Regions from separate parts of the Homo sapiens genome. Here all the other regions are linked to region 2. Evidence: fine-mapped expression QTL. A gene starts in region 2. Each other region holds a variant in brackets. All regions are shown on one strand. Distances are between the middles of the regions. Region 1 overlaps NPAS3 (neuronal PAS domain protein 3). Region 2 holds the start of NPAS3 (neuronal PAS domain protein 3). Region 3 overlaps NPAS3 (neuronal PAS domain protein 3).

Evidence for each region. PIP is the estimated chance that this variant, and not a neighbour inherited with it, causes the effect. A credible set is the group of variants that fine-mapping cannot tell apart.
Region 1: its variant is the best candidate, but not a certain one, in a credible set for the expression of NPAS3 in nasal epithelium (TOPMed, PIP 0.65).
Region 3: its variant is the best candidate, but not a certain one, in a credible set for the expression of NPAS3 in breast (GTEx, PIP 0.55).

Annotation. Positions count from the first base shown.
Region 1 is chr14:33,440,789-33,451,735 of GRCh38, reverse strand. All of the region lies in intron 4 of NPAS3 (neuronal PAS domain protein 3), which reads right to left. Among named protein-coding and RNA genes, the nearest start is that of SNORA89, 260 kb to the left of the region's middle. The variant G/C (reference allele first, on the strand shown) is at 4,669.
Region 2 is chr14:32,935,517-32,944,440 of GRCh38, reverse strand. It overlaps NPAS3 (neuronal PAS domain protein 3), which reads right to left and starts at 5,562. Exons shown (of 12, transcript NM_001164749.2): 1 at 5,075-5,562. The coding sequence starts at 5,124.
Region 3 is chr14:33,095,948-33,106,894 of GRCh38, reverse strand. All of the region lies in intron 2 of NPAS3 (neuronal PAS domain protein 3), which reads right to left. Among named protein-coding and RNA genes, the nearest start is that of NPAS3, 160 kb to the right of the region's middle. The variant G/A (reference allele first, on the strand shown) is at 4,871.

The DNA of each region.
Region 1 (10,947 bases), 510 kb before region 2:
ATGGGCACAAGAAAATGTGCAAAGATAACAGGCCCAAGATTTACAGTGCTTGTAAATCCATGAAAGTGAAATGAACCTAAAGAAACCATAACAATGAACCGTATTGTCATAGCATACATTTTTAATATTTGTTATACATGTTAAAAGCATTTTAAAACTTATAAAGTGTCTATCATAGCTTATTTCAATGTATGAAAATGATCGAGAGAGAGGAAAATAAATAGTAACAGTTTCTGGACACCAAGAATGGGCAACGCACTTCAGGGTATTATTTCACTTCACCTGCAATAATTCTGTGCTGTCAGTTCTATTACTGTCAACATTCTACAAATAGCAGGACTGAGGTCCACAGGCTTTGCCAAGGTCACATGACTCAGAAGTGGAGAAGGCTCAGATTTAAACTTTACTAAAAGTGCCTAGAGACTTTGAACTCAAGAACCTACTTTTTAACCACTGTACCGTATTGTTTAACATAAGGGGAAATATGGGGGCAGGCAGAGCAAATAAGGAGGCACAGCTGTATCAATTGATGATTTGGGGCAAGTAATTTTGTATTCTACAAATATTTATTAGGCATGTATTTTTTATGTGCCAGAGACTAGAAAAGGTACTGAAAACACAGAGATAAAATATCTTGGATCTCAAGGATCTCCAAGTCTAGCTGGAACGATAAACAATTTGATCCACAATAATAGAGTAAGACTACACAACTTAAGGTTGTAGCCATTTTCAGCGTTTGTTAGGAAACGATCTAATACCATTATTTCAAATTGTAAAAAGACTTATGACAGTTACAGAGCTCCTATAGACATTAAAGCATATTTGTCTCATGAAAAAATAATATTTTGAGTTTTTATGTAGTAAAAAAGAACTCTAGGTCCAGTAATGCCTGGCAACCATGACAATCAATAATTACCAATAACATCTAGTTGTATTTGGGGATATTTGTAAACAATAGATGAAGAGAGTCGAGTAAAACCAACAGCAATTAAAATATGTATTGAAAACTTCTCTCTCCAATTCACACAGATTCAGATTTAGAAAAACAGCAAACAATAAAATATCATGGCCAACTCTAACATACAGTACAACTCAAACTACAAGCAATCTGGCAGCGAAATAACAACAGTATTTAAGGAAAGATTCCATGAAGAAATAAAGTGCCAGAAATTTAACTGAAAAATTGAGAACATATTATTCCACATATCATCTAGACTCAGATGTTTTTTTCAGGATCTATCTCATTTCATGAATAACACAGGAATTAAAAAAATAGTTTGGGAGACTAGACACCAAAGAGCTGTTATTTGTAGGTGCTACGATTATGGATTATGAGTCACTTTGCTTTTCTTTGTGTTTCTGTAGTCTACGCTTCTGCAATGAATACAGATTGCTTTTATAATCATATGGCTTTTTTCTTTTCCGATGACTGCAGATGCATCAGCAGAACCTACCACACGGCACCTACTGCGGCTCAGTTTTGCTGTAGAACCGAGAAACATCACGTTAGATGCTTTAGCAACAACAATGTATATGTTGCATAAAGAAAAGTGTCCCAGAAGAGCAGCCAGCTGTCCTTTACATGAAATTGTGGCACTGCCTGTAAGAAGTATATCCAATGAGAACTTGTCCTCACCATGTAATACTTTTAATGGGTGAGCCATTTCAACACTTTACATACTGCCGAGTAAGTTTCTACAGAACTTTCTCATTGTACTCAGCGCTGTCTGTGCAGTTAATTTAGGCATCAGAAAACTCAGTTGTTAATTTTCTGACTTGCCTCTGGACTCTTAAATGCTATTGCTCCAATCATAACACGTCGGAACACTTACGCAGATTTCAACAATAATATCCACAGCTGGGAATAAATCAAAGCAGTTTTATCACTGATTAAGTGCTATTGAAATATGGTTACAAGACAACATGAAGCAAAGGACAGATTTCACTTAGGAAGATTAAGACAGAGCCTGGGGGGGAATAAAAGAGGGTAATCCAAACAAAGTCTATGCAACATTTAAAAAATATAATTCAGAGTCAGAATGCAGATTGCATTTTTTAGCCATTTAAATTCTCAGTTTCTTCTCTGTGTGTGTGTGTGTGTGTGCATGTGTGTGCATGTATATGTGTGTGTGGGTGTCTGTGTATTTATGCTATAAAGTGGTTCAATCATATAAGATGAATTTAGGCACAGCTGTTTTTCAAGCTAAAGTGTCTTCATACTAAGGGGTCAAAAAAACGCTTTCTGTAAAGGGCTAGAATGTAAATATTTTAGGCTTTGCAGGGCATACATCCTCCGTTGCAACTACTCAGTTCAGCTGTGGTAGTGTGAAAGCAGCCATGACAACACATAAATTAATTGGTGTGGCTGTATGCCAAAAAAATTTACTTATAAAAACAGGCAGAGGGCTGGATTTGGCCCCTGGGATGTAGTCCACTTACTTTTGTACTAAGATAGAGGTTATTCCATCTACCCAGATAACTCCTAAAATATGAGGATGGAGTTGGGGAAGACATGTAGGACTCAACATACTCAGTCATCCTAAGCCTCTGCCTTATCACTCGGGTGAATGTGCACTCTGTCCAGAACTCCTGCAGTCTCTTTTCGGTGGACATACAGCAGACAATGTCACCTCTACCTGCTCCCTTGAGGCCTATGCGGTTGGGGTGTTTAACTCTCCTTGAGTGTCTGCCCAGAGATTCTTTTTGAAAAATCCCTTCTCCTCCTTTATTTCCTCCTCCTTTAAGTGCCCTTCCATTTCCATTGCTAATTATTTTTGGCCACAGACATATCAGGGTTTCCTCTTTATTATCAGATCGTTTGGGGTTTCTCTTGGACCTGGCTGGCATCTGGTGCAGACAGATTTTGGCCTGCTCACTCAGGCTGGGCTGACCAAGCCAGTTCAGATGCTTGTATGCTGCTATTTTTCATTCACATCTGTACGGACATTTGGAAGAGGGACAGCAGTTTTCGGCAACGTTTCATCCTTGTCTCAGGGGCACTTTGATATTTTCATCGTGGATCCAGATGATGGCAGAGAGATGTTCCTCATTATGATAAAGACCACCAAAATTTAGGTGCAAATGAAGTTCTTCCTTGCAAGATAATCTCAGAATTTAAAGTAATCTTGCCAAATAGGAACAATGATCATCAGAAACATCATTAAATTGGTAAGGACAACCACAGCGCTATGTATCAAGCACAGTTCATGGAATAAAGTAAGATGCAAAATGTATGCTATCAACACCTAGATGGGCCCTCAGCACCACTTTGCCCTCAGCGACCCTTCCGCATGGAGCTCACGAGCTTCTTTTGCAGTTGCCATTTCCAATCTTCACTACTCTCTTCAAGATTCCTATTCTATCTTTGGACTGTCTTTTAGAGAGATGAAATCTGTTATCCCCTTAAATTATGGAGTTCCCTAGGATTCTGGGCCCTGAATTTTCTTCTTTTAAAACTTTATATGTTCTTCTTAGAGGATCTCATCCAAGTGCATGACTTTTACTACAACCTACACAAATTCAAATGATGTTCAAATCTGTATCTCTAAGCCTCCTAAGTTTCAACCCTAATCAGTCCCATCTTTAACATATGTCTTAAAAGCACTTCAAATTTTTTATCTGTCCAATCGAATTAATAATCTTCTCCATCCCTCCTCCTACATAATTCATACTTATCATTATCACTATCTACCCAAATATTCTGGCCAGACGTGCTGGAGGCTAACTGTTCCCTCTGCCACACATGTAGAGACTCAGTCTCCAAATCCAATCTCTCCTACTTTCTAAATGTCACTTAATCCTTCTGTTTTTGTTTTTTTTAAGAGATAGGGTCTCACTTTTTCATCCAGGCTAGAGTACAGTGGCACAATCATAGCTCACTCTAACCTTGAACTCCTGGGCTTAAGCAATCCTCCTGCCTTAGCCTTCTGAGTAGCTCATACTATAGGTGTGTGCCACTATGCCTGGCTAATTTTCTTTATATTTTGTAGAGACAAGATCTCACTGTGTTGCCCAGGCTGGCTTGAAACCCCTGGATTCAAATAATCTTCCTGCCTCAGCCTCCCACAGCACTGGCATTACAGGTATGTGCCACTTTGCCCAGCCAATTCTGTTCTCACCCCTGCTGCTACCTTAGTTTTAGGCCCTCACTATTTTCTCTTCTTTCCATAGTGGTCACACTACTCCTAATATCGAAATCCTCTTTCATGTTATAGTTGCATGTCTAAATTTAAAAACTCACTGCTTAGAATAAAATTGTCAAACATCTTAGCATACCATTTGAGGTCCAATATCATTTCATGTTATGCCGGCACTCTTCTCCCTACCTCCTACAAATGCGTGCGTGCGCCCACACACACACTCACAGCACACGCACACTCTCATAGCACACACACAAAATCTAAACTATAGCCAGGTTGTACAACATGCTCTTCTGTGTTTCTGTGCCTTTGCACATTTCTTGCATTTAGAATTCTCTCATTCATGTGACATCTTACCCACCCATAAAAACTTAGCTTACAAGTACTATCCTCTGCAAAGACTCTCTGAACTTCTACCACCAAGCTAAGATAGTCCTTTAGGCCCCAACGGCCTTTTGCATATGCCCATGTGATAGCACTCAGCACAATGGATTGCTATTACAGGTCTATCTCTCTCTCCACAGATTGT[G/C]AGCTTCTTTAGATGAAGACACCTGCTTAGCTCATAAGTATATCCCACCATTCAGAATAGCATCTCGTGCATATTGCTATTTGGTAAATATTTGTAAGATGCATTATGCAATAGGTAGCTACATACAAACGTAGTTGTATTAGTTAATGAGCCTGCTGTAAGATTCAAACATAGTATTTCACCTCAAATCAACATATTAGAAAACACTAGGTAGCATAGAAAATATTATCTCATTTTGCAGCATTGGTCAGATCATACATGAATATACTTAATAGATTTTGTTCTCTGTAACTAATGCTATAGAAAACATGAATACAACTGACAGAAAGTCATAAAGATTTTATAAAATAAATCCTATAAGACATTAGGCAATAGAATAGAATTACGCAGTTAAAAAGAAAGAAAGAAAAGAAAAAGACCAAGGATGATTCAATGGAAACTCCTGAGCCATCTCAAGAATTTTCTGCTGAGACTGCTAACAAGTTTTTCTCCATCTCTTCCGAGGGAGGAATGAGATACAACTATCTAGTAAAGAACATGAAAGAATTTCAGGAATATCTATGTATCCTCTTGCTTATTAGAAAGCATGAAGTGGCCGGGCGCGGTGGCTCACGCCTGTAATCCCAGCACTTTGGGAGGCCGAGGCGGGTGGATCATGAGGTCAGGAGATCGAGACCATCCTGGCTAACAAGGTGAAACCCCGTCTCTACTAAAAATACAAAAAATTAGCCGGGCGCGGTGGCGGGCGCCTGTAGTCCCAGCTACTCGGGAGGCTGAGGCAGGAGAATGGCGTGAACCCGGGAAGCGGAGCTTGCAGTGAGCCGAGATTGCGCCACTGCAGTCCGCAGTCCGGCCTGGGCGACAGAGCGAGACTCCGTCTCAAAAAAAAAAAAAAAAAAAAGAAAGCATGAAGTGTCCCTAGAGAAGATGGAAAAAATAATCCAAGATGAAAACTGGAAGAAAAGATTTCAGTGGGGTTGATGTTGACTCAAACGGAACATCAGAAGATTAGAGAATTGAAGCTATCATTGAGGAAAAAGATAAGAGAAAACTAGATTTCACTAAAGCCACAAAAACTGTAAATGGCACTGACCATAGCAGTTAAATTTGGATCTTCTGAAAAAAAAAAAAAAAAGTGCAACACTCCTTACCCAAAGAAGAGGCACAGGCCTCAGCCCAGGGAGGTCCCTGTGTACCCTCCAGAGAAAGAAGGTTGGTGGGTCAGCTGGTGACTGTCTCCTAAACAATGGGTTGGTTATTCAACATGGGTAACCAAGAAGTTCATTCTTGCTTAAAATGATATGCCACTGAACCTGCAAATTCCTATTCAAGTAGGTTGACTTGAAGAGAGAATAAATGGTAGTTATAGAAAATGTTCCAAATTGTCTCTTGAAGATTTAAAGCTCTGGGTCTGAAACTGAAGGCCTTGGGGAAATATCTTCATCCTTGAGGTTATGGCTTGGTATGAGAAAGCTGGTCAAGAGAATAGTGTCAACATATTTTTTGTTATTGGAAATGTTTTTTCAATTGTATAACAGAGTTATATTTCACTCATCTGGCTCAAGATAGAGAAATTATTCTAAAGATCAGGAAATGTGTATGTGAGATATAAAAATATTTCAAAGAGAAATTGGAGGCACATGTCAGAGTTGGGGTGAAACAGGTAAAATTCTACAGGAGAATAGCTGTAGTAGAAGACAGTGAGTTTCACAAAGACGGAATGATAACAGAGGTTTTGCTACGAATACTTAGTTTTTGAAGTACATATAGTAATATGTAAAATGTTGACAATAAAACAAAATGAACTTAAATATTAGCATAAAGGAGAATAATAGAAATTTTTTTAACACAAAGGAATAAGCAGTATACACCTCAACTCAGAGCGATGTGACTCATGCATGGAGAACAATGACAGAGGGTGTGTATTGATCAAAATAAATACAATTAACCAAGTGCCGAAGAATAGTACAGTCTGTTGTGAACAAACACAAACAATGTAAACAACCTGAGGAGAAAATAATCCTAGAAGGTGGGAACACAATGGAGAATATTTTGGTTTAAATAAAAAATACTTAAGTTGCTGTGAGAGAAGATCATAGCATGGTGGATAAGAAGGATGATTTCCGAAAGCAGATAATTAAATTGGGTAGCAGAATGATAAGATGATGATGAGGGAACCTCAAGCATTAGACTATCTGTTGGGAGTAACATTCGGGCAAAAGCAGAGCATCTGATAAATTCCTGCCTTACAGGCAGTTTCAACTTTTAGAAGGAAAAAGGGGAATGTGAATAGATGTGCACTGATTTTCATAGCATTTCCTTAGATCTCTTTTAAACAAGATATAAATATATAAAGCATAAAAATCATGTGATCTCAGGGTTGGAGGAATCGTGAACACTACCCAGGCCGATCCACATGGACTCCATCTAACCCGACTCTGCCATGGGATAGCCCCAGTAGTCCTTGGACCCTCCAGTGACGCTGGTCAGGAAATGGGTCATTCCATGTTTCACCAGTTTAGACCAAGATGTCTTTATAATGACATTAAAATTTGCTTAGTTACTGGCCTTAATTCAAATTTCTCTGAATCTGCAGACTCAAACTAACTCTTCTACCTCAACTCAATGTCTCTCAAATGTTCGAAGACAGTTACTTTGTTTGCACAAACTTTCTTTTCCCCAGGCTTAACAACCCCATGTCATCCCGTCACTGCTCACATGACTTGTTTGGCAAGTTTTCACCCCCTGCTTGTTCTCTTCTGGACAAAAAGAGGAAGGAACATGGAGGAGGTATAGACAAGAACCTTAAACAAAGTTGTAACACTGCAACTGTGGTCATCATCATAAAGAAAGAAAAGGCTGGGTATCCTCAGTCCCACGCCCTGAGTTTTAGGCATACAGATTCTTAATGCATAGTGAACAGACAGACATAATTCCATGACTAGGGATTCTAAATCGAATGTCTCTCAAGGTGACTTGAAGATTCCAAAAGACAAAGTGTAAATTTCTTCTACTAAAATGGAAAAAAATACAAATGTACCAAATTAAATAGTTCAAGTTCCATGATGTAGGCAAGCCATAATCAAAAGATCCAGTACCACAGTGGGTGCTTTTAATTTTATGTTGCCTCAGCATCTATTTTCACATAAAAGGTTAACTTTCTCATACCAGAAGCAGGTCTCAGTCACCCTTGACACAGTTTCCAACATTATACCCTACCCGAATGGCTCCAGCTGGTGACCAGAGATAAAACTCAGAGGCATCTCTTCCACCTAGCAGGCTGGGCTCCCCACTTTCCTGCCACTTCCTGTAAATGGACCATTCAGACATTTGCCTGCAAACTTAAAGTGACTCCTTCTCAGTCACAGCGTGACCTCCTGGAACTAGTGGCTGCTGCTTTAAACCCTGCAATTAAAGCTCCCCTGCAGGAAATCTGTTTGGATAATGCCCTGGAGTCAATAAAGCCTTTGGCCCACTGGTCCCCTCTCTGCCTGGGCTCCTTAGCGTGTGTGGAGGGGGTGAGCACCTCCAGGCATGTCATGTATCTTCCAGGACAAGATCCATGCAACTGGATTCCCTACTGGTGCTCTTTTGTTTGAGCCTCTCAGCTGCTGGGGACAGTAGTTACCAGCTAAACTAATAGAATTTCATTCAATACATAAAGTTAGCAATCTTTGGAACATTTTATTAAATATGAAATTAAGAAAACTCTGTAAAAGAAACCAGTGATCACTGGGAGGCAGCAAGCATGCATTACAAATCTTGGTGAATTAACTTTTTTTTTTTTCCTTTTTTAACAGAGTTTCTAGATATATAGTCAAATTTTCCCTTTAAGTATAATGATGTTTTTAGCAGCATATTCGATAGACTTGAAATTGAGGAAAATGTGGAAGACAAAATATAGTTAAATGGAGTAATAACTATGAACAATGCAATAATAACTTGAGTAAAGGAATTCAGTGTTAACTGAGGGAAGCTGGTCAATCTGTAAAGGGCTCTCTCTTCTACTGATTTGCTCTGTAATTATCCTGAATCATTCCACATTTTAAACAATGTTTTCATAAAGACATTTCATACAGATAAAATGTATTTGAGAGAGAGAACTCAGGTAAGGGTAAATTATCAAATTATCAAGATTCAACCTTACCTCTTTAAGTAAACAAGGTTCAGAAAACATTAAACTTAGAGGCAGCAGAACTAAATGTCAAGTCTTAACTGACGCTAACAAATCATTTCCTTAAATACAAGATGGGGAAAACCTGGTGTATTCGTTTGTTCTCATGCTGCTAATAAGGACATACCTGAGACTGCATAATTTATAAAATAAAGATGTTTAATTGACTCACAGTTCAGTATGGCTGGGGAGGCCTCAGGAAACTTACAATCATGGCACAATGGGAAGCAAACAAGTCCTTCTTCACATGGCGGCAGCAAGGAGAAGACAGAGCCAAGTGAAGGGCGAAGCCCCTTACAAAAGCATCAGATCTCATGAGAACTTACTATCATGAGGATAGCATGGGGGAACCACCCTCATGATTCAATTACCTCCCACAACACATGCGGATTATGGGAACTACAATTCAATATGAGATTTGGGACACAGCCAAACCGTATCACCTGGCTTAACTGTAGTTTTTTAATTTTTTTTTTTTTTTAAGACAGGAACTTGCTCTGTTGCCCAGGCTGGATTCCAACCCCTGGGCTCACGCAATCCTCCCTCCTCCCACCTCAGTCTCCTGAGTAGGTGAGGCTGCAGGCAGGCACCACCATGTTCAGTTGACTGTCATTCTTATGACTGAGATCTGGAACTTTAGTTCACCAAAAGTTAGACAAATAAACAGTGAAGTGGCTGCTAAATAGCTAGTATCATTTTTAAGCCATGTTAATACAAGTATAATTTTTAGATCAAGGATTTAGTCCTCCCCCCAGTCTTCACCCTACTGAGACCACATAAGAATATTGGTACACTGAGTATGAAGTAGTACATCGAGAAATCTGCAAACTATGTCATACGAGGAATCATGAAATAATTAAGGGAGAAATTGTAGAAGAGAGCTGATATGGTTTGGCTGTGTCCCCACCAAAATCTCATCTTAAATTGTAGCTTTCGTGATTCCCACATGTCATGGGAGGAACCTGGGGGGAGGTAATTGAATCATGGGGGAGGGTCTTTCCCATGTTGTTCTTGAGTAAGTCTCATGAGATGTGATGGTTTTATAAAGGGGAGTTTCCCTGCACTGGTGCTCTTACCTGCCACCATGTAAGACGTGCCTTTGCTTCTCCTTTGCCCTCAGCCATGATTGTGAGGCCTCCCCAGCCACGTGAAACTGTGAATCCATTAAATGTATTTCCTTTATAAATTATCCAGTCTCGGATATGTCTTTATTAGCAGCATCAGAACAGACTAATACAAGAACTCTTAGAAATAAAAGAGATTCAGAAGTCAAAACCGGAATCAAAAAGTGAAAAATATAAAGAAGACAGTTTTTAAAATGCGAATAGTACAATAATAGGATGGGCTGCCTTCAAAGGGAACAAGTTTGCTATCACTGGAAATATTCAAACAGCAGTTGGATGATTTTGATCAATAAGATTTCCAAGGGATTCTGCTATTGAAAAGTAATGTTAACTGGATAATCTGAAATTTTATCTGCACTCTAAGATTCTTTTATCTTTTTTTTCTACTTTAGGCTATTGCTTTGAAATTAGAATATACATGGATTATTGACTAAAACGTTTGGATAAGGAATGTTGCAGAAGTCTCTCTATAAAGTTTTATATTAGGAAAGGTGATGTAATTAATAATACTAATTTGCATATGCATAATAAGTTTATAGAATACATCTGCATATTATATTTCTTAAAATTCTCTCATAAGAAATTAACAGTGTTAAAAGTGAAACATCCAGAAATTGAGTAAAAGAACAACTATCCAACATTATTCCACAATCTTCTGGTGCACATTGAAGTTACAGAATCACAGCACTGAAGTGGACTTATGCAAGTCCAATGGCTTAACTTTACTGAAGAGGAATCTAAGGACAGTGGGGTTTTATGATTTGCTAAATTCATTATTACCGTGGCACACTAGGAAAACATTCTTAACAAATATAAAAGATGTGCTTGTAAGAAAAACAGCTGTTTGTGCTCTTCATACAGTCTTTTTTTTTTTTTGAGATGGAGTTTAACTTTGTTGCCTAGGTTGGAGTGCAGTGGCGCAGTCTTGGCTCATTGCAACCTCTGCCCCCCGGGGTTGAAGTGATTCTCCTGCCTCAGCCT
Region 2 (8,924 bases):
AATTTTGATAGCATTTAAAATTTAAAGAATAATATTTAATCAAGTAAAATTTAACATACTAACTTATTTACTAAGTTTCAGCCTTATTCATCCTAAGCAATTAAAGACACGTCTATAAAACACCTGAAGTTAGACTGTAGCCCAAATACAATGCAGAACTTTAAAAAATCAATTAGAATGATTAAATGTTATACGCAGAAAAAGTGACTGTGTAAACATAGCATGGAGGTGGCAGGAGCTACCTCTGCTTTCATGAGTGTTAATTTTCTTTAAATTTAGTGACATTTTGCATAAGACATAGGTTTACTAGAATTGTAGAAAAACAAAAACAGATTAAGGTTACATTAGGGTCATTATTAATAGTAAAGCACTTAAGGAAGTTAGTAGAGGAAAGCATTAAAAGGATTTTGAAACTTTTGTAATATATTCTCCATAAATATCCCCAAATAAAGGCCAGGCACAGTGGCTCACGCCTGTAATCCCAGCACTTTGGGAGGCTGAGGCAGGCAGATCACCTGAGGTCAGGAGTTTGAGACCAGCCTGGCCAACATGGTGAAACCCCTATCTCTACTAAAAATACAAAAATTAGCTGGGCGTATTGGCATGTGCCTGTAGTCCCAGCTATTTGGAAGGCTGAGACAGGAGAATCATTTGAAGGCAGAGGTTGCAGTGAGCTGAGATTGTGCCACTGCACTCCAGCATGCCTGGGCAACAGAGCAAGACTCTGTCTAAAAAAAAAAAAAAAAAGAAAAAGAAAAGAAATAAAGAAACAAAAAAGAAATCCCCAAATATGAAGACCTACTGCTTAAGAAAATAAATAATGCTTCCCCAAAAGTGTTGCTTTACAGAAGCCATAGAAAACCTCACCACAGAGCAGGGGATCCTAGCAGCAGGTCCTACTTCAAACAGACACAATTGTAACATAGCACTGAATCCCAGACCAGGATCTGGGGCAGGGAAGAGGAGTAAGGTGGTTCATAAGTATTCTGGCCTTCTCATAAAATAGCTATATTATAGTATAGGGCCAGCCATTGGGTAGAAGAATTACAGGGGAAGATCAAAATTCATATGACTAAAATTATCAAACTGCTCCAATTTCTGGATTATATTTGAAGTACAGTATAAGTCTTACCAATTGATTGCTGAGATATTAATTACACATCACTTTTAGCCATATTTTTAAGACTATATAAAGACACAGAAACCAAAACCTTACTAATAACACTACTAGGTGAAAACACCTCATGTAACTTTAAAAAAAAAAAAGTATCGAATAATGTTGAATTCAAGTTTGCTCATTTGCTCACTGTAAGGAATCAAATCTAGTGATTGGCATATTGCACATGTGGAGTAGTTATATGTCTTTCAATTCATAAATCAGAAATTGGAAATCTGAAAAGATGTTGTAATGAGGGAGGGTCTTACATAATAAAGGTCATTATAACTCCTGGCTCTGGAGCTATACGATCTAATATCCTCTCTGGTGGATCATGATATGCCCATGCATTACAGTTCTTGTTGACAGTCTGTTGCCTTGGAAATATTTCATTATTTCAGTTTTTCCATTTGTAGACCCTTGGCCTTGTGATATGAAGGCCATCCTATTTCATATTTTCGATTATCATTTAAGCAATCTTGTGGAGCTATTTATATATATAAGCAAGTGTTAGACAATGCATATAATCATTTATCACCCCTATTTAAGCTTATACTGTAGATAGAAATACCTCCAAAAACCAGTCTCCACCACCTTTACTTTTTAAACCAAAAGCCTTGTGCTACTGGGATACGCTTTGCAAATCAGCATGGGCATATCACATGCTTGACACTTCTCTCTGTCTAATTTTTTTGGTTATACATCCACATAGTAGAAAAACTTTGTGGTAGTGCTATATAATTTGCAGTCTATTGGCGTTTAAAGAAAATCAAACAAGTTTATGTACACAAGGTTTTCAACTTGTTCTTTCAGGCTCTAAAGAGACACTTTCTGTATATGTAATTCAGAGAAATGTAAGGAGCACTAAATAGTAACCAAAGACATTATCAAGAACGAGCTTATTTTTCTGAAATTTACATTATAAACATTACTATAAGGAAATGACTTTGGTACTGTATTACTATACACAGGTTAGACATTTCATAAATAAATGAGACAATTCAAAAGATATATTTTTCTCTGTAAGTTTCAGATTACTAATATATTTGAAAAGCAGTAAAGAATAAACTGTCCATAAATGCCTCTGTGAAATCAATGATTTTGAAAACATTTTTTTAAATAAATAGGAGGATACCATTTAAAACATATCCACAGAAAGTCATCTTTTATAAACATATTTGTGTTCAACTGCTACAAGGAAATACTTGTTAACCAACAAGTTCTAGGCACAATGTGCAAATAAAGGTGGAATTACTCACTTACTTGAAGCAAGTATGAAAAACAGCCCCCTCCTAAACAAATCATCTGATTTCCCATTTCTCATTACAAAGCCAAATCAACTTACATGTGTAATGTTTACACTTAAAGTGTTAAGAGCATTTAAAACCCTGACAACAAAGTGAACCCTTGGGGCATAAAACAACTGTTTGGATAAGGGACCAAGTTTGCGGTTGTTGCCTTTTGAAAGGTTTAGTTTATAACTCCTTCCTTCCTATCTTCCACAGTGCTCCTGCCCCCACCCCGCTGTTATTACTCCTCCTTCTCCATACAGGTTAAACCTTCTCAGATCCAACCTTTAAAATGACAGCATCCAAGCTGAACAAGAAGATGCTATTAAAGGGCATTAAATTAAATACAGTATATCCTCCTACAACTTCAATCAGAATTTCAGACCAAGTGTTATTTAGTTCAGCTCTCAAGTGGAGCAGAATAACAAATCGCACACTTTGATTTACCTTCTTCGAATGCCAAATGGAGACAGGTGATAAAGAACGCACTCATGCACAGGCTATGAAGTTTCCCCTAGAAATTAATTCTATCTCCGAGATTCTTATCTCAGAGAAATTCCTAAAATGGCACACGAATAGGCCTTTGCTAGAGAGATTACTGGGGCCATCCCAGTAAACATATTTATTAACAACAGAACTGGGAAGAAGGAAGGAAGGAAGGAAGGAAGGAAGGAAGGAAGGAAGGAGGGAGGGAGGGAGGGAGGGAGGGAGGGAGGGAGGAGGGGAGGGGAAGGAGGGAGGAGGGGAAAGGAGGGAGGAGGGGAAGGGAGGGAGGGAGGAGGGAAGGGGAGGGGAGGGGAGGGGGAAGAAAACCAATTATAAACCTCAGATTTCAAAAAGTATTCATCTTCATGTTAGATAAAAAATAATTTTTAAAATCCTTGCACAATGCTCTGAGAAATTATTTTTTCTACTACAAGAGTAAAGTGTGAATTCTTCATGAAACACTGATACTTCTTAAGAAGTAAATACTCATTTTAGCTGTATGAGTTGTCAGATTTTCTACAGTTTGGGAGCAATAGTTAATGCTATACACATTTAACATCTTTAAAAACTGGATTATGTATGATTTACTCTCTGATATATGATGTTTACAGAATCATCTAGAGTTCAGAATTAGTCAATTATGTATCTACTTAACAAAAGTATTTCCTTAATCCTGACAATTGTGCCTTCCCTATCGTATGAAAGAAATAAGCAACAGTACAATAGAAGCCTTTTAAATGAATGGATGTCTGAATATCCCCTTATCGTCTTCTGATGTAAGCTATAGGTTAAATATTATGTTGCATCAAAAATAAAACTATGTTATAATAATTAAATCTTGCAACTAAGCACATCCTTTGTCTTCTTTTCAAGTTCACTTAAGCCTGTGAGGAAAATCAACGCGCCTGCTGCGGGTGGGGGTGCATATATCTTACTGTATTTGTTTTCCTCATGAATCAGTGGGTGACGTTTCATACTTCCTACTGCGCCTTTCCTCTTCGGAGACAGAAAGAGATATCCACTTTGCTCAAACCAATATGCTATATGCAATTAATGTCATTAACGTTGCCAATTAATAGTAAATAGGATTCCAAAGAAAGTAGGCTGGGTGGACAGCAGGAGGGAAAACCACGTTGGTGGTGATGGGGAGGGGGTGCTGAGTTACTCTGAAAATCTATCAATGCTACTCACGTAGAACAGTTACGGGTATTTTGAACACAAACTCCCTTTCCCTGTGGCTGTACTAGTTTAACTAACTTCAAATAGACATGCTCGACTGAGCCCCTTGCTTGGATATGCAATTCTCACCAGGAACTTTTTAAAACACAGATCCCCAAACAGTAACTAACGGGGCATAGATGCTCCAACTGCTGACACATTTTGGATCTCGCTGTTTGTTTGCTTATTTGGATTTGAGGGTTTTCTTCTTTATTTTTCTTTTTCCTTTGGGAGGGGTATGGAGAGGAGGGGAAGATGAGAGCGGAGGGCAGAGCGGGAGACCCACAAGTTGCCGAGCGGAGGGCGCAGCCCGGGAGGCAGGGAGGCGGCGGCCGCGCTCCTCTGGGCTCGGCCCGGCCTAGCTGCTCGCGCGGAGACGGAGCCGGCCCCTCCGCGACACATTCCGGGCCTGGCGCGAGCTCCGCGCTCCCCGCCCCCGGCCTCCTCCTCCTGCTCCTCGCCTCCTCCCCCTGCTCGCCGCCTTCCCTCCCCCTCCCCAGCCTCATTCCCTTCCTCGAGAGCAGCTGCTAGGGGACCTGCGGCGGCCCCGGGGATCCCCGGCCCCCCACCCTCGCTGCTGCTCCCGTCACACGGCAGCGCCTTCGCATCTGTTTGTTTCTTTTTCTTTTTCTCTTTTCTGTTTCTTTCTTCTTTTTTTTTTTTTTTTTGTCAGTGAGTCACTCTATTCGCCGAGCCGAGGAGGTGCGACTGCTCAGAGAGCCCGGCCGCCGCCAGAGCCTCTCGCTGCCGCAGCCGCCGCGGGGACAATGCGCGGGGCCCCGGGCGAGCGCTGCGCCCAGACGAGGTCCCCGCGGGCTCGCGGCCCAGGAGGCGGGCGGGCTGCGGAGAGGGGCCCTCGGCGGCGGAGGCGGCGGCGGCGGGAGCAGCGGCCCGGCGGCAGGTTCAATAAACAGAAAAGTGTTACCGTTCTCGCCTGGAAGGATCCTGCTGAAAGCTGGGCTTGGTGGGCGCCATCTTCCTGCTATTTTTTTTCCTCTCTTACTTTTTGCCTCTCTCCCCCCTCCCGGGTGGGGGGCGTGGGCGGGCGGGGGTGTGCGTGTGCGTGGGGTGGCGGGAGAGTGCGGCCGTGCGCGGCGCTCTGGGCTGCCCGGCGGGCGGTGGCCGGGGCCGGGGCCGTGGCCGTGGCCGTGGCGGCGGCGGCGGCGGCGGCGGCGGCCGTGCTGCTGAGGTGGGGAGGCTACGGAAAAGTAGTGGGGCCGGAGCCTCGCGGGCGGCCGGCCGTCCCCTCGCGCCGCCGGTGCTCCCAGCCGTGGGTCGCCGCTTCCGCCGCCGCCTGCGCCTTCTCCTCCCGCTGCTCGCCCGGCGCCGCCGCCGTCCATGCGCCGCAGAGCGCCCGCGGCCCGGGCCGCCCCGGCTCCCGAGGCATGCCCGGCGCGGAGACAGGCGACCGGCGGCGGCGGCGGAGGAGGAGGAGGGGGAGGCGGCGGCGGCGGCGGGGGGAGGCGGCCGCGCGGTCCCGCGGGCAGCCCGGCCCAGGGCCCCGCCGCCTCCGGGTTCTCACCCCCGCGCCGCCACCCGCCCCCGCCCCCGTCCCCCGTCACCCCTTTCTACCACCCGGAGCAGCCCGGTGGCAGGTGGGGCGCACACCCTCCCTGCGGGGGGCGCGGGGTCTAGGCCGGGAGGAGCGGGAAGGGGGAGGACACGCGGGGGGTTCCAGCTTGACCGCTGTGAAAGTATTTCTGGGCATTTTCCAGCTGCTTTGCTCCAGAGCGCTCTCTCGTACGCAGACACACACCTCCCCCCCCTTCTCTCTCTCTCTCTCTCTCTCTCTCTCTCTCTCTCTCAATTTCTCTCTCTCTCTCTCTCTCTCTCTTTCTCGTTGGGGGACTGGGAGGCTCGGCTGCCGGCGCAACAACGCCACTCAGTTGCAGTTTCAAACACTTCCCTTCTCTGGAGTATTGCAGCCAGGAGGAAAGAAAGAAACAGAAAAAGGAACTGGGAGGCCACAGGAGCGAGCTGGGGCAGGACACAGTCCCGGGAGCTCCTTGGGGGCAGCGGAAATCAATACGGATGGGGGGTGCGCTGGCCCAAGCAGATGGGCCCAAGAGCCCCGTGGGCGGTGCAGCAGCAGCACAAGCACCTTGTGGCTCTGGCGCTCTCAGCAGCGTTCCCAAAGCCGGAGCATCTGCATCAGTCACGGACGTACAGGAGTGCAGACCCCAGGGTTCACAGGTGAATCCCCGCGCGTTTAAACTCACATACAGAAGCCCCTCCCGACTCGGGTCCCGGGACTTGGGACCGGACTGCCACCCTCTGGGATCTAGCCCAGCCGCACCCCGGTTTGACAGTTCAGCAAGGCCTAGAGAAAGGCTGGCTACTCAGTGCAGGGCCCGGGCTAGAATCCTGTTACCTGGGTAGACCCTGGTCAGAGCGTTTTCTCCACTAAACCAATCAGAAGCGTGTGGACAGCTTTTTACGCAGAGACTTGGGTCAGTCATGTGTCAACCAGGCAAGTAGAAAGGACTCCCAAAGCATTTCCACTTTGAATGAATGAAAGCGCCTGATGGAAAACATCAGTCCTGTGTGAGGTTCTGCATTTGACTTTAAGCTTAAGAAAAAAATAAAGACCTGAAAAGGGGTCCTCCATTCGGTCTCTACGACTCCAGTAAAGTAGGGCTGGGAGTTGGAAACTTCCAAAGGAACACATAAATGTTTTTCGTGGTAGAGGTGTTTAATCTGCATGATGGTGTTTAAGTTCTCTTTGGAGTACACTCTACAGGTAGGAGAGAATGAGAAATGAACTGGAGTGGAGAGTGTTATGGACAAGATATACATGGGCTGGCAGAGAAGGGAAAAAGTTGCCAGTTCAAAGTTTTGGCTCCAGGACACCCAGTCTAGGGGGTTTCTGCCCGAAGATGACAAATGAGAGAAGCTTGTAGTCTCCCAAGAGGCCACTCTTTGCTTGAAAAACCCCCCACTCCTGTCACTCCCGCGGCGGACTCCTCAAAAGTACTTAAAAATAATTTTTTGGTAAAATGATATGTCACCATTCACTTAACAAACAAATCCAGATGGAAACAAATCCAAGCGGAAACTAAGTCTGTCCTTCAGAACCCCACAATCCTGTTGAGGTGCCAGAGGACAGGGGACTCCTGACTCAGACCCTACCTCCAACACCTGCCAATGACCTTGACCTACACGGCTCACTCTCTGCCCCCCTCCCCCTATTTTGACTAAAAGACAGTAACAGGTGTCATCATGTCTTAGTAACAAAATCAAAGAAGGCTACATTTTTCACAGCTATCATCTTCTCTTCTGCCAATATAACATAAAAATCGAAGGAGGGAATAATACACCCCAAAGGCTAAAGTTTAGAGATGCTAGAAAAAAAAAAAAAAAAGCCTTAGTCTTTAGAACTGCAGTGGGATTCAGAGACTTCATAAGGTGCCCAAATTCAAAGTTGAAAGTGGAAAGCACCAGTGCAGCTCTCAGTGCTGAGGTGGCAGACTGTAGGGGACTGCCCCTGGTGCTCCTGCCTTGAGGGAAAATTCTCTCTGAGGTGATCTTTATGGTAAAGGATAACAACACTCAGAGCAAACCTGATGGCAGAAAATTCCTAATCCCCCACCCTTTTATGCCCAATTTATATGGTATAAGTTAGCTCAAGTTCCCGGAGGTCCCTGAAATCTTCCAAAGGCCATCTGACATTTCTGACCCTTGACTCCCTACTTCACAGACCATACTATTGTGACCATTGCCTGCACTTCCTAGTTAAAGTGACCGCCAGATACTATTGTCATTTAAATGTTGTATAAGTGACCAAAAAAACATACCTGAACCATGAAAAGGAAAAATCTAATTCTTTTCTAGTCTTTCATGTTTGAAAGAGTCCCAGATCTTTTGTATTAAAGATTCCTGTAATCACTGAAGTAAAACAAGACTAAAATAATTTAAATCAAAAATCCCTTTGACAAGGAATAGCCCCTTTTTGAGTTATTTTCCAAACTCTTTAAAAAAAAAAAAAAACTTCAGACAGTACACAGAGCATATAATGAAGTCTTCTACAGAATATTTGGAATACTGGACATCAACTTGGAAAACACTCAGTGTGTTATGCAAAATCTGCTCTGGTCACTGGGCCATTGCTTGGAAGGCACAAAATATGGCAGTGATAGATTATCTTAACCTTTTCAGTTTAAATACTGTTGGTTCAAATCAAAGGTTCTCAAATCAATGAAGTTTGAAATACAAGGTAAAAATAGGAACTGTTATTTGAATTATGCATTGTGTATATTTTAAGTTAAATGCCATTGGCAAATCTCTCAGATGTTTAATCATGTGCAATCTGGGAAACACAAATATTTAATTTCACACTTTCATGTGTTCTTTTTTCTTCCATCTTTTATAAAACCAAGCCCCACAAATGGGGAGTTTACCTTTCATAGTACATTGTTAGTTTTTCTCAGCGCATTTTCGTGGATTACATTTTCAGTAAAATCTTGGAACATCAAAAGTTGTCCTTCAGGAAAAACTTCAGGGTTCTAAAGCTGTTGGTAGTGGTAAATTGCTTTCCCTTTCTTTCCTTATTGAATCAAATTACTATTTCAATGTCAAATACGTAATTTTTAAGAAAAATCTATAAATACGTTTAAGAGAACTACAAATAATACTTTAAAACTTCCTTCTCACCACCTAGCCTGACTTTGTAAAATTTGCTTCCTAACTTGTATCCCTGAATCTTATGCATTTGCATTATAATGCGTTTAAGATGAATACTTAACAGCGCCGAAGAGACTCGGATTTCATGCTGTATT
Region 3 (10,947 bases), 160 kb before region 2:
GATATTCATTATATTCATAGTGTTAAGGGAGAAATCCATCTGTCTAGCAGCATTCAGAATTGAAACACTAGGAAATCATGTGGTGTTCTTGGTTTTATCATAATTTATAGTATGAACCAAGACAAGTTGTTTAGACTTCCCGTGCATCAGTTCTGCGGTAAGTAGATCATTAATATCTGCCTCTTCAAATTATGTTCTGGAAATAAGGTGATCTTTTAAAATTATAGATTATTGTTTCTCATTAGCTTGTACTTAAAGATAACAGCTTTTCTCCTCATTTAAGAGCAGGGCTCCAGTGGAAGACTAAGGTGGTCTCATTCACAACTTTTCAAAAGTTCAACTGATTAGTCAACCACTTTGTTGGGATAATGATTTGCTTCTCCTTTAATTTATCAATGTATTCTGATTCACAAAAAATTTTGATAGCAATTTTGAAAATTTTACTCTAGTCCAGTTTAGGATCAGCTTGACTCACAAACCTGGGATAAACTCAAACTGAATTAAAACAATGGAGAAGGTGGCATTTAATAGCAGGTTAAGTGGAAACAAAGACATCTTTTGAATTGCTGCTACTATATTTGGGACAATACTGAGAGTTAATCCATAAACTAGAGGTAAGAACATACTTCTTTTCTTCTCAAAATAATGTCCATCAGCTTTAGAAATTAAAATTAGTTTATCTTACAAAATAATTTCCAAGATTTTGCAAAAAGGAAGGAAAAGTCTATATTGGATGAATTTGTGGTTTATTAGTATAAAGAAACACATTCCTAAGAATTTGGAGCTTTGATCACAGCAAGGACATAAGGAGGTCATTCAGTCTAGGCCTTCCTATTTCTAAGAAGCACTGCACTTACAGAAAGCTGGTATTCATGTTTGGTTGAGTTTGTTTCATGTAACTATTCCAAAATCACAGTCAAAAGAGTCAATATATCTTTGATATCCAAGCTTCCAGGGAAGAAGCAACAGACATTTCTCCTCATCTAAGCTTCAGTCTTTTAAATAACTCCTGTAGGAATAATTCTGAAAGACATCAGCCATGTCAACCCATCAATCTTATCCATGCCATTACCAGACATTTTTTAACTAAGATTTTTGTTTTTGTTGTTTCAGGAGCATAGTTTTGATCTTTTTTTTTCCTAAATAACGATATATGTTCAATATGTATGCCTGAATTATGAACATAACACCAAATTGTTGCAACTAGCACTAATTTGGGACTGATTAACATTAGCTATTGCCTGGTCCTGTAACACATCTGCATATTTATCTAATACTGCATGACTCATTGTAACAAGGAGTAGTTTTTGCTGTGCTTTAGTAGCCCATGTAATCTAATTTAAAGATTTAGTTAAAACTAGGTAGAGATAACAAATAAGTAGCTGGATATACAGTTTGAAACCTGGAGGTAGGTTGAGAACTGAAAATGATGCTTTGAAGTCATAAATGTAAACTTACAGAAAAAAAGGCAGAAAAGCAGAAAATGCAGATCATAGGAGCAGCCACCATCATAGTAGTTCTTGCTCCATTTCTTACCACATTTATCTTACTCAGTTTTCTCATCTTTAAAATGGAGTGAATAGGTCATACTTCAGGCTTTTTGAAGATAAAGTTTGATGCTCCTTGGAAGAAATATATTAAGTGACAGAGCAAAGCGTCACTTGGTTATATGTTTAATGTGATCATTTGCATAAATAACTACAAATTTGAATCTCAGCATTTAACAAACATGACTATAATCCAATTTGTGTGATGTATGTTTGGTGATTTTTAACCTTTACATCTTTTATACAAACCTATGGATTACTGGAAGCAAATATATATACACACTTCTCCAAGATATAGTAGATGCTTTCCCACATCATGAACCCTCTCCTAGATATATTCCAAAATTCCTATGTTGGCTAGTAAAACCTTCCTTACACATCAGCAACAAACGCAACCCCCATTATCAATGCTGACTTGCTTAGTGAATAGCTGCTTCTTCATAAACTGAACTATGTCTGGAAAGCCAAACAAACCAAACATGAAAATGGGCACCATATTTTTTTAAATCCATACTAAATGCAGAACATACTCAATTGTCTGACAAATTGGTTAAAATTGGTGCCACTAGAATTGAGTCACTGAAGAGTTTATTTCTCTCACTATATTAACTGTGTGATGTAGCAATTGCACCTAATGAACTTAATGTGGCTTACGGCTATGCACTGCTTCCTCTCAGAAACAAAATCTAAATGTTCCCATGTCTGGCCAACTGGCATCCAACACTACGTCAGTACAGGCACACAAGCCACTAATGTTCCATTTTGGCCTCTGGCTAATACACTTTTATTTCACATGTTCTCTGAATGTAAGATGTTTTCACTAAAATGCTCAGTAGTTTTTAAAAATAAAAAGCCACAGAAGAAATTTGTAGTTTCTTTTTGACAAGTTCACTATATATAAAATTTCTACAACTCACTACAGTGTAGTTGAAGAGGATTCTCAGAATTAATCACAAATGTAGTAACTTACGGACTTTTACCCACATGAACTGAAATGAAATCATCCTTTGAAATAGAAGCAGCATGAAAAGAAAATAAGAACAAGACTTTTAAAAATCATGACAACCCTTCAATAAATGTGTGGAATGGTACTAAAGCCATACTGCAATGCTCAACTCTACTTTATACTCAAGGACCTTGTTATAAGTGAAGGTGTTAGAACAAGGTCCTTTTGTTATTTACAGAAATGAACTCAGCACACAGGGAGATGCAATAGTCTACATTATAGTGAGTCTGCAATGTAGCTGATACCCATACAGATTTTTTTTACAGCATTCTGTAGTTCTGCCTTTCTCCTTTCATGTTCCCTATTGAAGCCAGACGCCATAAGCTTTTAGGGGTAAACGTGAGCTCTTTTTGTCAACAGCATATTTAAGATTCTGGAAGTTGTATTTTTCCCCCTTTTCCTTTAATGGTATATCCCTTCCTCCTTTCTGCCACACATGAGCTACCTACCCAGTGCTTTTCTTGCTGCAGCTCTACCCTCACTGAACTCAAAAGGCATGGCCTCTCTTAAAAGAAGCCTAAATCTTATCATTCATATTCCTCCTCTCTGGAAGACACAATCTCCGGACAAAGTCATCCTGTGCTTCTGCACACATATGCTTTAGCTAATCTCTAGGTGAAGCTGTTCCAACACCCTTCATTATTACCCAATCACTCTCAACACAGCCAAAGTGCTGCTCCTCTATGACTGAGTAGCACTGACCTCAAAATAAAAGTTGAAAGTCTAAAGCTGAGGCAATTAAAATTTCACAGTGCAAATAAATCTTGCCAATTGCTCTTTGGCAATATCTTCAAGGACGCTATTTTCTACAACTGGATCATCGCTATAAATGGTACTTAGGACCTTTACCCTCAAGGACACCAAAGCTTGTAAAAGCCTAAATATGTAGAATAAATTCAGCTCAGCAGTAACACCACTTAAGTAAGCCAGAAATAATATACAGAACAGCACATGAAGGTTGATAGTAAGTCTACATGATGCAATGGCAGAGCTTCCATGTCCATTGACTTTCAGGTGAGCTCTTGACACAGACAAGAGGGTGAGGACAGTGGGCTCTGAGACCACCAAAGCTCTTGGGAAAGTAGAAGGGTCAGGGCTTCTACTGACTATGGCCGGTCCCCAGGTGGGAACATCTATTTGTCATGAGAGCCTGGTTTGCAGGACCACTGAATCAGGGCATGCAGAAGTCACACCATATTCCCAATACTTTACCTGAATTTTCATTCACAAAACACATTCCTCATAAGGTATTGGTATGTATACTTTTCTTTTAACTTAAATTCCTTATAAACTTACCACTAGTCACCACCAACTTTAGTAGAAAACCATGCCCATCTGCAAATAAAGGAACCAGACACTTACTAAATGCCTGCAGACTGCTATACTGTAAGGTAATAGTTCTCCATGCAAAAAAACCCTTGTGTTAACACAAATAAAAAAGTGGAGAACTTAAGCAGTTACCTTGGTAAATAAGATTTTTGAGGCAGAACCAGAAACTTCTAAATAATTAAGGTAATTTTCTCTGTTTTGGTTTAAATTGGAGCCTATCTTAGAAAAATCTGTAAGTGCATGACAACTGCTGTCTTCAGCAGCCACTTGTTCACATAGTCAGTGTCTTCCTTCCCCTCTTCCCACTTCCATTCCCATTCCTAGCTATGCTGGCAATAGCAGCTTCATTATATGCCTGCATCCTTCCTATTTCGCTACTCAGGGGTCTCATGATGTTGTCTTAACTCTCTTATTCCTAGGCGGCACTCCAATAAAAATAATACAAACAGTTAACATTTATTGGGCACTTACTATATGCCAGGTACTTCACATGATTATTTACTTAGTCCGGTAAGCAGCTCTATATGAATGAGTTACTATTTTCATCTACCTCTAACAGATGAAGAAGCCAAGGTTCTAAATAGTAAGCAAAGATCTCACAGCCACACAACTAACAAAAGAGCCATGATTTGAACCCAGGTGTTCTATGAGTCAGAAGTCTTAATCACTATGGATATGGTTCTGTGTGGCAAGGCAGTTTTCTCCAAGGCTTCCCCCTTTCTCCCTAGTTTTTCTATTCAAAATCAATCCTTACTTGTGTACTCTGTTCTATCCCTAGCTAATTTTTGCCTACTGTCACGATGGGAACCAACCTCATAAACACATCCACAGTAAAGTCCCAACGGCAGGTGACCATATGAAGAATGAATTGTGGGAGAGGGCAAGACTGGAGAAGGGAAAAAAAGAGGTTGATTCAGGCAAGAGATGATGCTGGCCTAAGCTGGCATGGTAGTGGGAACAGAGGTCTGTGTAGGTCTGAGAAGTACTC[G/A]GGAGGTAGGATCACCAAGGATTACTGCCTGATGCAACATGAGTATGAGAGAAAATGGTGGGGGACAGGAGTTACAAGAATGATGCCTCAGTTTATGGCTTGTAAAACTGGGTGAATAGTGCTGGCCATATACTGAAATAGAAGATAGGGAAGAAAAAACAGGTTTTAGCAGGGAGCTCAAGAGTTCAGCTTAGGAATGGAGGCCGTGGTGAGTGCTGGATCTTCATGTACAACAGGATATTGGATGAGTACCTATGAAAGTCAGGAGAGAGATCTGGGGGCATTAACATAAATTAGGGCATATTAAGCATAATAATGTAAGCTTAGGAATGAATGGTGTTGGCTCAGATCCCATAAATGTAACTCTGGCCCTAATTTTAGACATTTCTTCCACTAAGAGGGTCAACAGACTCCACTGCCAATATGCTTTCTCTACCTGATCAGGGTATCATTCATCTTCCTCTAAGGAGGCAATTACTTTAGGAATATAATTTCTAACAGTACACACAGGTTTAAAGATACAATTTTTAAAAACTTTTTCAATCGCTACATGTACAATCAGCAAACCTGTGCCACCCTTTTCTAGTCAGGGTTTACTACAAGTTATTGTTGTTCATATGTTGCCATCTGAACATATCCTTTGTTTACAATACACCTGCACTCTTTTTTCCCCTAAATTATATATTTTTTAAAGATAAGGATTTATAACTTCCCTTTTTAAATAATATCTGCTAAGAGTCCCAGTAACAACTAGGCATAACTTTTTAAAATTAAAGGGCATTTTTGAATAAGGGAAGAGACTGGAAAAGGTTTAAATTGGCAAACACTCAGAAATGCTCAAGTATTAGATACTGAGGTGTATGTCAGTGTGTGTGCAGGTGTGTGTGGGGGGCAGGGCGGTGATGGTATGTCTGGGGAAATCCATCTAGGGTCTACCTATTTCACAAAGAACTAGTCCCATCCTTCTGAACACTCTGTAACTAGGAACACAGCATTACAATTTATCACCTTACTGATGACCCTTCAAATGTAATAAAGGATCCAGTAAATCAGAATAATTGATAATTCAAGGTCATTTGAAGTTCAGCCTCACATTATAGAATAATGTGAAAAAAACATATTCAGGTAAACATTTACCTTCAAACATAACATATTTCCTCTCTTTGGAAGTAGCCATTTATAAGCAATAGCAGAAATACAATGTAACCAGAAGCCAGAATTTCAGGCTAATGTTGTAGTGTAATTAAAAATAATTCCCACATTTATTAAAACTGACCTAATTGCTCACACTGTAAAACATAGATCAGGGGACAATATGCACTAAAAATAATTTATGTTCCAGAACTTTCACTAATTCAGATTGACATATCTTCCAGGTAACTCATACTAGTGAAGTTTTCCTTTAAGTTAACTACGCAAATTAAATAGCGTTGTATAATTATATTTCTCAATTGATACTGAAAGAGAAAAATAGGTAACAGTTTACCCAAAGTTATATTTTACCCCTTGTAATATAAATGTAGCTACAAATGTCTAAGTAGGCTTTTCTATTATGAATGAAGCAATAGATCCTATTATGTATCAAGTACCTTAAAAAATGATGACTATAGATATCAGTTATCCCCATAGCTCAGAATGCTTCTTTTCTGCAGGTAAAATTAACTCTTAGCAATAAACTCATCATGACAAAAGTTTTTCAAAAAGTGGTTCAATTAATGGGTCAAGAGAAGAACTCTTTCTATCCCAACTTTGTATCTTAATATTCAGCACAAGAAAAACCTACCTTCCCATTAGCTACAATTCAGAATGTTTAAAATTGCCCAATCAGAAGTGATCTAGATAGAGGTTGCTTATAAACAAAGTCATCCCTTTCTTAACTCAGAAAACACTCTTGCAGCCCTGACCACATCAGACCTTTCACAACGACAGAGAAGTGACTTAAACCAGTTCTATAATTTGTAGGGCTACATATAGTTGCCTTGAAATATTTAAAAATTCTTAGCAAATTACTCATAAACCAAGACTTGTTCATTCTTTTTCTATAAAGGACAACAAAATAATGGAAAACTTAAATTTTAGAAATCTAACCATTTCTTTAGTGGATTATTTCTCACCTTATTGTTTCAATTTGGACACCAGTGTTTTCAAATACAAGAATCTGAGAATATAAACCAGGTAAAGGTGTGGCCACTGCTAGTCCTTTCTCTCCCATTTATTAAAATGGTATAAAACCAGCTATTCTTAATGAGATGGGTATATACATAGGTATATAATTTCTAAATATCAGATTCTTTGCATTTTGTTTTTTCCCTACAATAGACTCCCAACTATCCCTTGGATTAGTTTTCTGAACAACTTATATAACTTTATACATCTTTGTACTATACTTTGTCCTCTTCAAGTATATTTCTTGAGCTAATTATAATGTTTAGTTATTTAATATCGAGTAATTCCCTTTAGAGAAGAGTTTACCTTATACAAAGCATGTTCAAACTCTATCACCATTTCCTAGTGCCATTTCTTTCATTCAAACTACATTTTTTTTTCCTTCATTACATTTAATGTAGAATTTTAAAGCAAGGCTTCTGAACCTGAGATTCATAGAGTCCATGGAATGGATCCTCTAGTCCTTGGGCCTCCTGAAATACATGCAGAATTTTGTATGTATGTATGAATACGCAAAGATGGTACCATAGTATTAAGATGTCCATGGCTTTCATGAGATTTTTTAATCTATGTCCTCAAATTTAGTATCAAATGTATGACGGTACTAAAACACTGATTATAATCTTTATACTGGCACCTTTGCTAAAGCTGAGCAGTCACAGGAGAGCCAAGTAGTAGTGGTGCCCATGCTGCCTGCTCAGAAATGAGTGGATTGTCCAGAGCTTTCCTCGGGAAACTGCTATTGTTCTATGTACACCTTGAGGATCTGAGCTGAGTTAGACCTGACCTTGCCTGCCAGGGCTTTGTGTGACTTGGAAAAAGGCCGCAAGGTTCTTTCTCTGGATAGACTCGGCTCCACGGATACAAGGATTGGCTACTGGAACATAGACTAAGTTTCCATTTCCAAAAGCCCCCTCAGTTGAGCACCTTTGTGAAGCACTCAAAGTGCACAACTGGTCTTGGTCTCAGGCAATTTAAAGAATGAATCAAAACTTCAGTTAATAGCAGTTTTCATATCCCACCACTCTTAAGGAAAATGGGAGATCATTGAAATTTATATGGCTTCACTGATTTATTTCTAAATTAGTCTCATTTGAGAGTCAACTTGAGTATACTAAGTTATGTGAAATATGAAAAGTCTAGTTTGATACACTAGTTATACTTTCCTGCCTTTTTCTTTTTAAGAATTGCTTTTGTTCAGACTGTAGAGACCGGAACTTTGGTAGCATTCTTAGATGAGCTTAAAACAGCAATTACAAATAGAGTCTTGAAATTAGTTAGAACTTTGCTAGAATCCATGTTTTCCCACTTTACCAGCTGTGTGACTTCTTTGGGCCTCAGTTTCCTAAAACTGTCATTTTGAGTATTGAAATACATCACTAGGCAAAGTGTCTAGGACAGTACTAGTCTAGCAATAAGTAGGTAATCAATATATGGTATTCACCATTGTCATCATCATTGTTGTCATCATCATCTTTGAATCAGTTAAATGCCTACCATTTATAATTTGACTCTCTACAATCCTATACTAAATCTGAAAAAAATTCTATAAAATACTAAAATTAAAATTTGTATTGGAGGCACACATATGATAACCTAAGTTATGATAGGGCAAAACTACAGTGCTGTGGGAAAAAGATAATGCCAACTCAGCAACTGGAGCTGGATTATTTAGATATCCATAGAGCCCTCAACCTCATGCCATACACAAAATTAATTCTAGATGGAATGCATATCTAAAGGGTTCTAAAAGAAAATATGTGTAAACATCTTCATGATGCTACAGTAGACAATAACTTCTTAAATAGGACACAAATTTCTAAATAGGAAAATATATATAAATTGCACTATATTAAAGTTAAGAGTTTTTTTTCCTCTACAGATACAATTAAATGAGTGAAATGGAAAAATATGAGGAAAGGGAGATTATATTTGTATCTCAAAAGTATAAAAAGATCTGTATCTAAAATATTTGCAGAACTGTAAGTCAAGAAAGCAGATAATAACTCAGTAGAAAAAAATTAGTAAAAAAACACACGAAAAGGTGCTTCACAAAACTAACACTAAGTGGCTCATAAACATTTGAAAATGTTTTCAACCTCACTGGTCATTAGGATATTACAAATTAAAAGCATATTGCAATACACATCCACCAGAATGGCTAAAAATGAACGACAGAAAACAGATCTTGGCAAAGATAAAGAGTTACTGGAATTCTCATATATTGCTGATTGGTACAACCACTTTGGAAAATTGGCATTATCTACAAAAGATAATCATATGCATATCCTAGGACTGAGCAAACTACACATCTACATATATAACCAGCAGAAATGAGTACATGTTACCAAAGAGACATGTACAACAATGTTCATATCTACACTATTGGGAATGCCCAAATGTTCATCAATAATAAAACAGATTAGCTGTGGTATATTCTCAAAATGAAACACTATGCAGTGATGAGACTGAACAAACAACAATGATATACACATAGCTAAATCTTACAATGTCGAGCAAAACAAAAGTCAAACATAAATGATTACATATGATATGATTCTATTATAGGAAGTTCAAGAGTAGATAAAACTAATCTATCTGTGTTCAGAGACAGAATTACACTTTTTTTTTTACCAATTTTTTTGCAGAGATGATGTCTTACCACGTTGCACAGGCTGGTCTCAAATTCCTGGGCTCAGGCGATCCTCCTGCATTGGCCTCTCAAAGTGCTGGGATTACAGGCATGAACCACTACACCTGGTCCAGAATTACTCTTAGAATGGGGGGAAAAAATTGCACAAAGAGTGGCAACAAGAATGTCTTCCATGGTACTGGTGCTGTTTTATTCCTTGATTAAGGTGCTGGCTATAGGCAGGCATTACATTTTTATTTCAAACTGTCAGAAAAGTAGTTAACATAAGTAGTGGGACATTAAACAATTGACAGCAGAGTTTCAGATGACTAAAGTGACATTTAAAATATTACCAAGTAGTGAATCAAACATTAAGATAACAAGTAGAGGAGCCAAATGTAGAGAAGCCGCTGAGGAGATTTCCATAGTCATGAATGACCGTCATAGAAGGTTACTGGAACATTCTGCAGCCATACATACTTGCAGGAACGGAAAGAATTCTTCATCTCAGAAACTGCTTATTTTAACATTGCCAGACTACGGATATAAGCTCATGATAACTAGAAGCAAAATAATTTAATCATAGAAACACACATTGCCTATTTAGTTCAATTTTATTACTCCCCATACAAGGAAATTGAGGCACAGAGAGACTAAGTGACTTGTACAAGGTCACAGATTTGACTGACAAACCCTGAGTTAACAGTCCAATACTAAACCTGTTCCCAATTCTCTCTAAACACATTGCCTCTCTTTAGTGTCCAAAAAATAGCTTCGTTTTTGAAACTAAATTGGCTTAGATAAACTATGATTTGCATATTACATCAATCAAGTCTTTGAACATTTAACAAAAAAGGGAAGTAAAGTGGAAGCATGAAATACACCTAAGAACTAAGAATTGGCCATGAAGTACTTTCTAGTACTTTCTAGCTGAGCTATTCAACTTTTTACACAGTTCAATTAGCAATGGCAGAAAGGGGGCAGATTTTGAGAGAAGAACTGGTTGAGAAGTTTTTAAAAAGATAACACCAGTATTTCCAGGGGAAATCTTTCCCTACAAATAAAACATATTGGCATAGAAATGTATGAAATCTTCCTAAACCTAACGATATTAGATTAGAAAGGGGAGGGTGAAAGTTTCCCTACTGCCAGACTCAGAACAAACCCCTGTTGTCCATGTATCCATGCACACTAGATTAACAAAATTAAGCTGGGATCACCTTCACACAAAAAACAGAGAATGACCGGCCAGGCGCGGTGGCTCACGCTGGTAATCCCA